2 separate regions of the Homo sapiens genome follow, and region 2 is linked to region 1. Evidence: fine-mapped expression QTL. A gene starts in region 1. The other region holds a variant in brackets. All regions are shown on one strand. Distances are between the middles of the regions.

Evidence for each region. PIP is the estimated chance that this variant, and not a neighbour inherited with it, causes the effect.
Region 2: its variant is the best candidate, but not a certain one, in a credible set for the expression of PGM2L1 in fibroblasts (GTEx, PIP 0.73).

Annotation. Positions count from the first base shown.
Region 1 is chr11:74,396,118-74,401,501 of GRCh38, forward strand. It overlaps PGM2L1 (phosphoglucomutase 2 like 1), which reads right to left and starts at 2,316. Exons shown (of 14, transcript NM_173582.6): 1 at 1,934-2,316. The coding sequence starts at 2,044. MIR548AL (microRNA 548al) reads left to right here and starts at 3,120; the gene lies at 3,120-3,216. RefSeq lists enhancers at 1-466, 467-966, 2,058-2,679, 2,411-2,780, 2,680-3,300.
Region 2 is chr11:74,271,931-74,277,242 of GRCh38, forward strand. P4HA3 (prolyl 4-hydroxylase subunit alpha 3) reads right to left here. Exons shown (of 13, transcript NM_182904.5): 9 at 5,055-5,214; 10 at 1,615-1,677. Among named protein-coding and RNA genes, the nearest start is that of P4HA3-AS1, 37 kb to the right of the region's middle. The variant C/T (reference allele first, on the strand shown) is at 2,662.

The sequences.
Region 1 (5,384 bases):
GCGTGGTGGCATGTGCCTGTAGTCCCAGCTACTCGGCAGGCTAAGGCAGAAAGATCACTTGAGCCCAGGAGTTCAAGGCTGCAGTGAGTGCAGTGAGCGGAGATCGCGCCACTGCACTCCAGCCTGGACAACACGGTGAGACCCTGTTTAAAAAAAAAAAAAAAAATCAATCAGGAGACTCATTAGGAAAAGTACAGTTAAAACTGGCACCTAAAGAGAACAAAAAGTCTTGCTACTCCAAGTGTGGTCCACAGACCAGCAGCATTAGTATCACCTGAAAATTCATTCTTTTTTTTTCTTTTCTTTTCTTTTTTTGAGACGGAGTCTCGCTCTGTCGCCCAGGCTGGAGTGCAGTGGCGCGATCTCCGCTCACTGCAAGCTCCGCCTCCCGGGTTCAAGCCATTCTCCTGCCTCAGCCTCCCGAATAGCTGGGGCTACAGGCGCCCGCCACCGCGCCCGGCTAATTTTTTGTATTTTTAGTAGAGACGGGGTTTCACCATGTTAGCCAGGATGGTCTCGATCTCCTGACCTCGTGATCCACCCGCCTCGGCCTCCCAAAGTGCTGGAATTACAGGCCTGAGCCACGGCGCCCGGCCGGAAATTCATTCTTAGGCAGAATCCAAGGCCCCACCCCAGGCCTCCTGAATCAGAATTTGTATTTCAAGATCCCCAGGTGATCTATAAGCACATTAAGGTTTGAGAAGCATTAGTTTAGACTGTAGAGGAAGAATTATTCGTCCAATATACATATGACCAATTAACACCAAATACCTCATTGTAGTTGCTTATTTGTTGGTCTTCCTCATCTGCTAACTGAGGCTTGTTGAGGGCAGGAACCCTTTCTATTTTCCTCACAAGTATTTCCTGGGTCTAACAAGACCTAAAACACGCACTCAGCATTCAATATTTTTTTGCTGAATGAATGAATGAATAAAGTAAAAACAAAACTTTCAGAAAGTGAAGCCTTAAGGAAATTCATTTGTACAACATAATGTCACATACTACCATACAAATTCCTTAATTCAGTGTCATTAATTCCATTTTAAATGTGCTGCCTTCTCTACTTCAACAAAGGTATTTTACGCACTTGACAAAGCAAAAGCTTGGATTATCTTCCTCTGTTGGAGCTACCAGGGACCTCTTTTACAAGTAAGATAGCTGCATTTTAATTCTGATTGTCACAAATTCATCCCAAATGCCCGCACGAGGTTTAATTACCACCACAACTTGGAGGTGGGGGCGGAGGGTGGGTGGGGAGGTGTTGGTAGAGAAGTAATGGTTAAGGCAAAAACAATCCTGTATTAAGAGTACCACATGAAACCTGGAAAACACGATTCCTTGAACAGATTAATTCCAGAAAATAGCTGCCAGCAGGAGAAAGAAGAGGTAAGCGCCTTGCCTTTCCCAACAGCAAAAGGTGATACTAGACAATACCAGGGAGTGATAAAAGGCCAGCAACTACCTAGCGACAGAAGGAGGAAACACACCAGACCAGAACTAAAGCGGATAGCGGTTAGAAACGCCCAGTAAGGGTGCCAGAAACCACTTTCAGGTATGTGGAGAAGGAAGTCAAGGGAGAAAAAGGGAAAGGAAATCGTTGTTTAGGGTATAACTTACAATGATGATGATTTTTTTTTTTTTTTTTTTGAAGAAAGAGGGAAGACAGCACTTGAAAGGAAAGAGGGTAAAGAAGAGGAAGGGAGGTTACAATTGAGAGCACTGCAGAAGGAAGCGATGCAGATGTTGCCGCCCGGCTCTGGCAGTCCGAAGGAGCAACCCCACGCATAGGTGGGTGGCAACGCCCTGCTCCGCTGCCCCCCGCTCGGTGTCCCGAGCCATCTCCTCTGCAGCCCGCGGGGCGCTGGGTGGGCACAGGAAAGAGCAGACTGTGTGGGGGAGGCGACGGCGTTTGCCGGGCTGACCAGGTACCCACCTTATCCCAGCGGAGCCACTGCCCGATGGCCGTGTCCAGCTGAGGGTCCCCGGTGTGGTAGGGGGCGTGGAGCAGGTTGGAGTTCAGATCCCCCTCTGTGTTTTCAGCCATGGCGACCAGACAGGCGTACGGGCCGGGGGCCGGCGAAGACACTGAGTTGGGGTGGGGGGTGGCTTGGGGTTCGCTCACCAGGGTCCAGGCGTCCCCACCTCACTGAAGGGCATCGGAGACCAACCGCAGGGTGTTCGTAACAGCTCCTGCCGCGGCGTCAGGGAACCGGGAGAGAGGGGGTTTATGGCCGCCTGCTCCCCAGCGGACCAGGTCCGGGTCTCTGGGCGAAGTGACTGAGGCGGTCGCGCCGCGAGAGAACAACAGTCCCAGATGTCTGGGTCCTGGCTCCGCCGCCGCCGCCGCCGCCCGCCCCGCCTACGGCCCCGCCCCGCGCCTTAGGCCCCGCCCCTTCCCGCCCTTGCTGATTTAAGTCCCCGAAGTTCTAGACTGGAGCCCGGGAGCGCGCTCCCCACGCCTCCGAAGTAGTGGGGGTTTACAGCCCGTCCGGGTGGTGAGGCAATAGTGCACGGTTCTTTTTATTTTTTAATTTGCCAAGGGTCTCCTTTCCTCGATCTGCTCTCACGGCTACCACTAGCAAGCTGCCTTTGCGCTTGCCCTGCAGGTCCCCAGCGCGCGCGCAGGCCCCCAGTTTCTCTTGGGGGCACGCGCCGGTTGGGGGAGGAGGGGCAGTGCGAGCTGTCCGCGCACTGCCTCACGGGAGTTGTAGTTCTTTCCTTTGTCTGAGCTCAGCGGAGACCGCCGCCGAGACTACGACTCCCAGCAGCTCCGCGTTCCCCCTTTCCTCAAAAGAAAAAGATCTACCTCGAGGTAGTTCCCTACAGACACGCCCTATCCCTATTAGTTATGCTGCGCTGTGTGGCCCTGGCATTAAATTAAACAAGGAATGACATAGTAAGGGGACAAAGTGGTATCCGTTTAGTGCTGTGCAGTTTACGAATCGCGTTCTATCGCCTCAATCCCTCAGTAAGGTACAGGGGCGTAGTCCTTTTCCGTTTCACACACAAAGAAGAAACTGACTCCCTGAGACACCTCTCCTAAGAGGCCGAGTTCGTGAGCGGTCAAACTAGGGTTCCAATCTCATTTCAGATCCCCTCAGCTGGCAGTTATTTTATTAGGTCGGTGCAAAAGTAATTGCTGTTTTTGCCATTAAAAATAATGGCATTAAAAGTAATGGCAAAAACGGCAATGACTTTTGTACCAATCTAATATCTCTGCTGCTATAGTAAACTAGGAGGTAGGGAGAACAAGATTACTGGAAAATAGATAAGGAAGTTGTTGAGGGAAGATGGTCGGCATTTAACCTAAATATAAGAATGTATAAGCATCACAAGATACCAAGAGCAATGGTAATGGGAATACGGAGGAAAAGGAAATTGGTTCACCCAAATTGAAATAGTCTTCCGTTACTTCTTAGCCGTCTCTCCTATGGAAAGCTCACCTAAGTTGAGGTCTGGGAAATGCTGAGAAGTGCTGACCTGTCAGCCACCTAGCTACTCCTCCGTTTCTTGGTTTGGCCTTCTTAGAATGGCTATGATTTTGGGCAAGTACATTACAACTCTTTCCCTAGTCAGCTTTTTTGTAAGGAAGGTATGATAATATTTACATCATGGCTGTACAGTAACTTAATAAATGGCATTAGGCTGCTTTGAGGTTCACAGATAAAAGACATATTAAGTTCAAAGTATTACTTTATTTCCTTTAAAGTGCCATTTACCATAATAAAATTCAAACTACCAAGGTACAAAAGGATTGTGGTACCAGTTTCTGAAAAACGTGCCATAGTTGGGAGTTGCAGTTTTTGCTAACGATTGTTTCTTTTGTGGAGTCAGCAGGACTCTTGTTCTTTTAATCACACAAGGCCTGGGCAACAGTCACGTGTCCTGGAGAGAAATTCATCTTCCACTACCATCACCATTATTATCCATGATACATATTAAACATTTACTCTCTGCTAAGCATTATGGTAGGAGCTGAGGCTACAAGAATCTATATAATTGTTCACTTCGAGAAGTAACATCTGAGGAGACAGGATATATGTAAGAAAAGAAAGCCCATGATAAATAGCAAGTGCTGCCAACAACTGTTAATGAATTTACATCTGAGGTGGTCAATGAAAAAAGCATCAAGCAGGAGGGACCTGCACTGGGCTTTCAGAAACAAAATAAACAAGTTGAGAATAAGATAGAGGATATTTCAAACCCATAGATCAGTGGTTCTCATATCTCCCTAGGAGTTTGTTTAAATTAATATTCCTGGACACTGCCTCCAGAGATTCTGAATCAATACATTGGCATAGGGCCTAGGTACCTGCATATTTGAAATATCTATTGACTGTCACAATTCAAAGTGTGATTAGGAGGACAACTGTGCTGATGTCCTCTGGAAGCTTATTAAGAAATACAAAATTTCATACCCCAGTCCAGTTCTGCTGCATCAGAACCTACATTTTAACAAGATCTAATGATGAGTTATATTTAAATTTGTTAAACAGTGTTTTTTATAAGACAATTCTTATTCAGTTCATTTCTGAGAAACACTACCAAATCAACAGAGCTTTCAAGACATGGAAAAAAAGAGTCAACTAACCTTCACTTTTATCAGCAAGATCATAGCAGACATTTACTGCTTACCAGAAATCTTGCCCAGCGGATTAGATTTATTGTTTGGATGTTGGAGGGTAACCAAGGAGACCCAGAACCCATCAAATCCAACAGCAGTGTCTAAGTGTGTTCAGCAGAGGAAGTGTAGTAGTTCCCCTAGTCTGGGAAAGCTCAGAGCTTTCATTTCTGTTGGAATTTGCCCATGGCATCCTGCATTTTTATTTGCTAAGCCTGGCAACATTAACTGTGGTTATGAAAAAGAATATCCTTCTTGGTCCCCGTATACAGTCATACATTGCTTAATAACAGGGATGTGTTCTGAGAAATGCATCATTAGGTGATTCTGTCATCTTAACATCATAGAGTATACAAACCTAGGTGGTATAGCCCACTACCCACCTAGGCTATATGGTACAGCTTATTGCTCCTAGGCTACAAACCTGTACAGTATGTTGCTGTACTGAATACTGTAGGGGACTGTAACACAATTGTAAGCATTTGGATATCTAAACATATCTCAATATAGAAAAGGTACAATTTTTGGTATAAAAATTATGATATAAAAAATATAAAATGGCACACCTATATAGTGCACTTACCATGAATGGAGCTTGCAGGACTGAAAGTAGCTCTTGAGTGAGTAAGTGAGTGAGTGGTGAGGGAATGGGAAGGTCTAGGACACTACTGTACACTACTGTAGACTTTATAAGCACCGTACACATTAGCCTAGGCCTACACTGGGTGAGGATCATCAAGACATCAACTCAGTCATAGGAATT
Region 2 (5,312 bases), 120 kb before region 1:
ATACAATGACAGAAACATACAGTATGGAACTTTCCAGAGTGACATCCCTCCTTACATTATCTCATCAGACCCTCACAACAACACTGTGAGGAAGCACAGGGCAAAAAGTGAGCTCACATAATAGATGTAATCTGTGCTGAGGCCACATAGTAAGTGGCAAAATCAGGATTAGGTCAACTGACTCCAAATCCAAAGTGTATTCCATTCCACTCTGTCTCAAATACTTAAAACCCAAATGCACATGCATGCACACACATGTGAAAGTGCATGAGAGTGCATGCACACACATACACACACACACACACACACACATGCATTTGCCATTTAAAATTACTGGGCTCTTATACCCACGCTACCTTCGCTATAGTAACTGGGGCCCTGTAACCAGGGAACCAGCCATAGGAGATATTGAGGGGATAAAGAACAGAGATATATTGTGCCCTAGATGCCCTGTTTTTTGGCAGCAGTTCATTCTTTCGCCGTTTGTGACCTCCCATAACAGCTGGAGTGGTCAACCAGAGATGCAACCAACTGCAGCTCCAAGATGTGTCCCCTGCCTGATAGCTGACCTCAGAATGATCAGAATGAGGCCAGACACCATTGTAAGTGGAAGCCTTCCAGTTCCATAGGAAGTACAGAACTGAGCCACATAGAGAAACACACTGGAATTGCTGGCATTAAAGACTACACAGAATGCTGGCCTCTGACTGCCCTTTCTTGGCTGTCCTGTGGAGACCAGAGACAGTCCTAATAGAAGAGGAAAAGCTGGGGTGAGGGATGTCTGCTATTCTAATGAGGCTGAAACAAGGACTTCATCTTTGGTTGTTATATAGAACCCTTATATATGTTTGTCCCTTCAGTTAACAGTAAGGTATCTCTTCTAATAAGTGATTAATTCTAATATTCTCTTCCAGTGACAGGTGATTGGAAGCTTGTCCATAGAGACGAAAGTAAACCCACATGATCTGAAGGGAAGGGGACAGGTGAGATGATACAGACTGGGGCCGAATCCTGATCAGGCCAGGAATTAGGAGAGAAGTACAATTTATTGGTTTATCTTGAAAGGGGAGTCATGGAGATTTTACTGAAGATTTTATAGAGAGATAAGGAAGAGAATTTTCACTAAACATCAGAGGCAGCACTTGCTGAATTTCTCTCAGTGTCTCTGTTCTTCCCTCTTGTAAATCTGCTGCCTCATTCCTCATCCATCTCCCTCCCCACAGCCCCACAACCTCATCTATGGGTTGTTTTTCAACACTGATTAGTCCATGAGACCTCAAGGACACAGATTCTCAGATCCTCCTCCTGTGTTGTTCAAGTCCCTCTATCTCTTGGCCTTCAGTGGAGCTCCACTTCCCATCCTAATCCACTGCCCATACCAAGGTCATATTTAGATTTACACACTGTCAGCCTCTTTCAGGGTAGAAACCTTGTCTTGTATTTCTTTACATCTCCTACAGTGCCTATCAAAAATGCTGTCTGAAATTCGCAAAATTCCTGGAGATTTTTGCGCTGAGTACCAGATAAAATCAATACGTGAAATTGCTTTGAAAACAATAAAATAAAGTAGAGCTATAGTCAGTCATGAAGTAAGAAGCCCAGAGCAATACTCACATAGATCATAAATGTTGCAACTCGGTTTCCTGACTTCATTCTGTAGAGGGGGCTGCTTGGTGACTGAGAAAAAAAAAAACAGAACATATTATTTTATGCAGATGGCACCAGAGGGACAGGCAGGATTCCACTATTAATACAAATAGAAGTAAAATGGGGGCATCAAAGATGGGATATAGTTCTGATATACACCTACTGGAGTATGTGCCCGTCTTTGCTGGCAGGTACTCAATACAATTTTTTTTTTTACTAATTTATTAGATACTTATATAAAAGAATTGTCTACTACCAAACAGAACTACTTGTCAGTAGTGAAAGTACTATATGAGGGGTTAATTGCACCTTTGAGTTCTCTGTGAAATATAGAAATTAATATATAAAATATTACAGACAATTATTCTGTAGAAATACCAAATCATAAGGCCAGAGTTCCAATTACTTGCTGAAGAGACATACTCTTTTTTTTTTGTCATGGAACAGTTTGAGATATGATTTATATTCCATAAAATTCACCCCTTGTAAGCCTACTGTTCAATGAGTTTTCCCACAATTGAAGTTTAGAACACAGAACACTTCCATCTGCTGAAAAGCTCCTTCATGCCAGTTAGGAGTCAATCCCTGCTCTCACCTCCAACCTCAGGCAACCCACTTATCTGCTTTCTCTCTATAGCATTCCATTGTGCAGATATATCAAAATTTGTTTATCCGTTCACCTGTTGACAGACATCTGGGCTGTTTCCAATTCTTGGTTTTTTTTTTGTTTTTTTTTTTTTGTTTTTGAGATGGAGTCTCACTCTGTTGCCCAGGCTGGAGTGCAGTGGCGTGATCTCAGCTCACTGCAACCTCTGCCTCCCAGGTTCATGCCATTCTCCTGCCTCAGCCTCCCAAGTAGCTGGGACTACAGGCGCCTGCCACCATGCCCAGCTAATTTTTTTTTTTTTTGTATTTTTAGTAGAGACGGGGTTTCACTGTGTTAGCCAGGATGGTCTCGATCTTCTGACCTCGTGATCCGCCTGCCTTGGCCTCCCAAAGTGCTGGGATTACAGG[C/T]ATGAGCCACCGTGCCCAGCCCCAATTCTTGGTTATTACAAATAAAGCTACTATAAACTTTTCTGTACAAATGTTTGTAGAGACATATTTTCTTTTTCTTTTGGGTAATATACATAGGTGTGAAATGGCTGGATCATAAGTAGGTGAATCTTAAACTTTTTAAGAAACCATCAAACTTTTTTCCAAAGTGTCTGTATAATTTTGCATTCCCACTAGCAGTGTATGAGAGCTTCAGTTCCTCCACATCCTCACCACCACTTGGTATAATCTTATTTTATTGTAGCCATCATAAGAGAGTGCAGTGCTATCTCATTGTGGTTTTAATTTGCATTTCCCTAATGATGTTGAGCATCTTTCCATATGTTTCTTAGCCATTCATTTATCCTTTTTGGAGAGGTGCCTACTCAAATAACTTTCTGTCCATTAAAAAAAATTGAATTATCTTATTACTGAGTTATAAAAGTTCTATAGATATTTTGGATACAAGTTCTTTACCAAATATATGATTTGCAAATATTTTCTCCTAGTTGGTGGCTTGTCTTTTCCTTTTCTAATGATGTTTTTTGAAAAGCAAAGAATTTTAATTTGATAAGGTCCAATTTATCAGTTGTTTTCTTCTTTTATGGATCATACTTTGGTGTCATATCTAAGAAATCTTTGCCTAACCTGTGGTCACAAAAATTTTCTCTTATGTTTTCTTCTAGAAGTTTTATAGTTTTACATTTACATCTATGACCCATTTTGTGTTAATTTTCATATATGGTGTAAGGTAAGGGTGTAAAGTCATTATTATTTTGCAGATAGATATTAAATTGTTCCAATACTGTCTATTGAAAAGATTGTATTTTCTTCATTGAATTTCCTTGGCACCTTTGTCAAAACCAATTGATCATAAATGTGTTGGTTTGTTTCTGGACTCTGTTCTGTTCCATTGACATATGTGTCTCTCCTTACACTGGTACCACACTGCCTTGATTCCTGTAGCTCTATATTAAGTTTTGAGATCAGATAGTGTATGTCCTCCAATTTGTTCTTCTTTTTCAAAATTGTTTTGGCTGCTCTAGGTTTTTTGCATTTCCATATACATTTTAGGATCAGCATGCTAATTTCTACAAAAATAAACCTCCTGGAATTTTTATAAAGCTGGGGTTCAATTTATAGATCAATTTTGGGGAGGTCATTTTAATCCTCAAAAATCACTACTGGGTATCTACCCAAAGGAAAATAAAGTATTATATTACAGAAAAAACACCTGCACCCAGATATTTATTGCAGCACTATTCACAACAGCAAAGTCATGGAACCAACCTAAATGTCCATCGATGGTTGATTTGATAAAGAAAATAAGGTATATATACATAACAGAATACTATCCAGCCATAAAAAGAATGAAATAATTTCCTCTGCAGCAACATGGATGGAGCTGGAGGCCATTATCCTAAGTGAACTAACTCAAAAGCAGAAGATAAGATATTGCATGTCCTCACTTATAAGTGGGGGCTAAACAATGGGTACACATGGACATAAAGATGGAGGTAACAAACACTGGAAACTGCAAAATGGGGGAGGGTGAAAGGGGAGTGAGAGTTCAAAAATTACGTGTCAGGTAAAACATTCAATAGTTGGGTGATGGGTACACTAGAAGTGTGGTCCCCACCATTACACATGCAATACCCATATAACAAGTATGGCTGGGTGCAGTGGCTCACTCCTGTAATGTCAGCACTTTGGGAGACTGAGGTGGGAGGATCGCTTGAGCCCAGGAGCTCAAGACAAGCCTGGGCAACATAGCAGGACCTTGTCTCTACAAAAAAAATTTTTTTAAATTAGCCAGGTGTAGTCCTAGAGCTACTTGGGAGGCTGAGATGGGGGGATCACTTAGCCCAGGAGTTCAAGACTGCAGTGAGCTATGATGGTGCCACTACACTGCAGCCTGGGCAACAGAGCAAGATGCTGCCTATAAAGAAAAAAATAAATACATAAATAAATACGTAAATAAAAAACAAGCACATGTACCCCATGAATCTAAAATTTTAAAAAAATTATTTGCTATTATCAGCAAAGATGGCCAGTTGAGATCATGAGGCTAGAAGAGTTACTGGAGGAAGGACAATCCTCACTAGGAAGTCCCTGAGTGGAGCAGTCCGATGATTCCATGACAAGCCACATTCTTCCCTCACCAGCAAATTTTAGAAGGGAGATGGTGGCAGACAAGAAAATGAGTCAGCAACAATATGCTTGAAACTAAGGCTTTCAGATATTTCTGGAAAAAGAACCTTTGTTCTAAGATTTCACTTAGTATTCCCTGAGAGCCTACAAGAGCTCTGCCTCAGAGAAATAAATAATGCCCTGGCTCCCTACCCCAGGGGATTGGTCATTGACTCCACCATTACCGTAGCATGGTCAAAGTGAGGCTCATAGTGTCCTCCGATGCCATAGTTCACCACCTGCAGATACTCTGCATAGGGAGGCCGGACATCAAGGCCTGTGAGGGCAGCAATGCGGTGGTTGAGGGTCACCAGTTTTGGGTCAACAGTGTCCTTCAGCCAGGCACTAAAACACACCACAGATTGAAGCATCAATGATCTGTTGCCCGAAATGACTAAATGACGTCTCTGAATGAATGAATAAACAAATGAATTATGTTAATT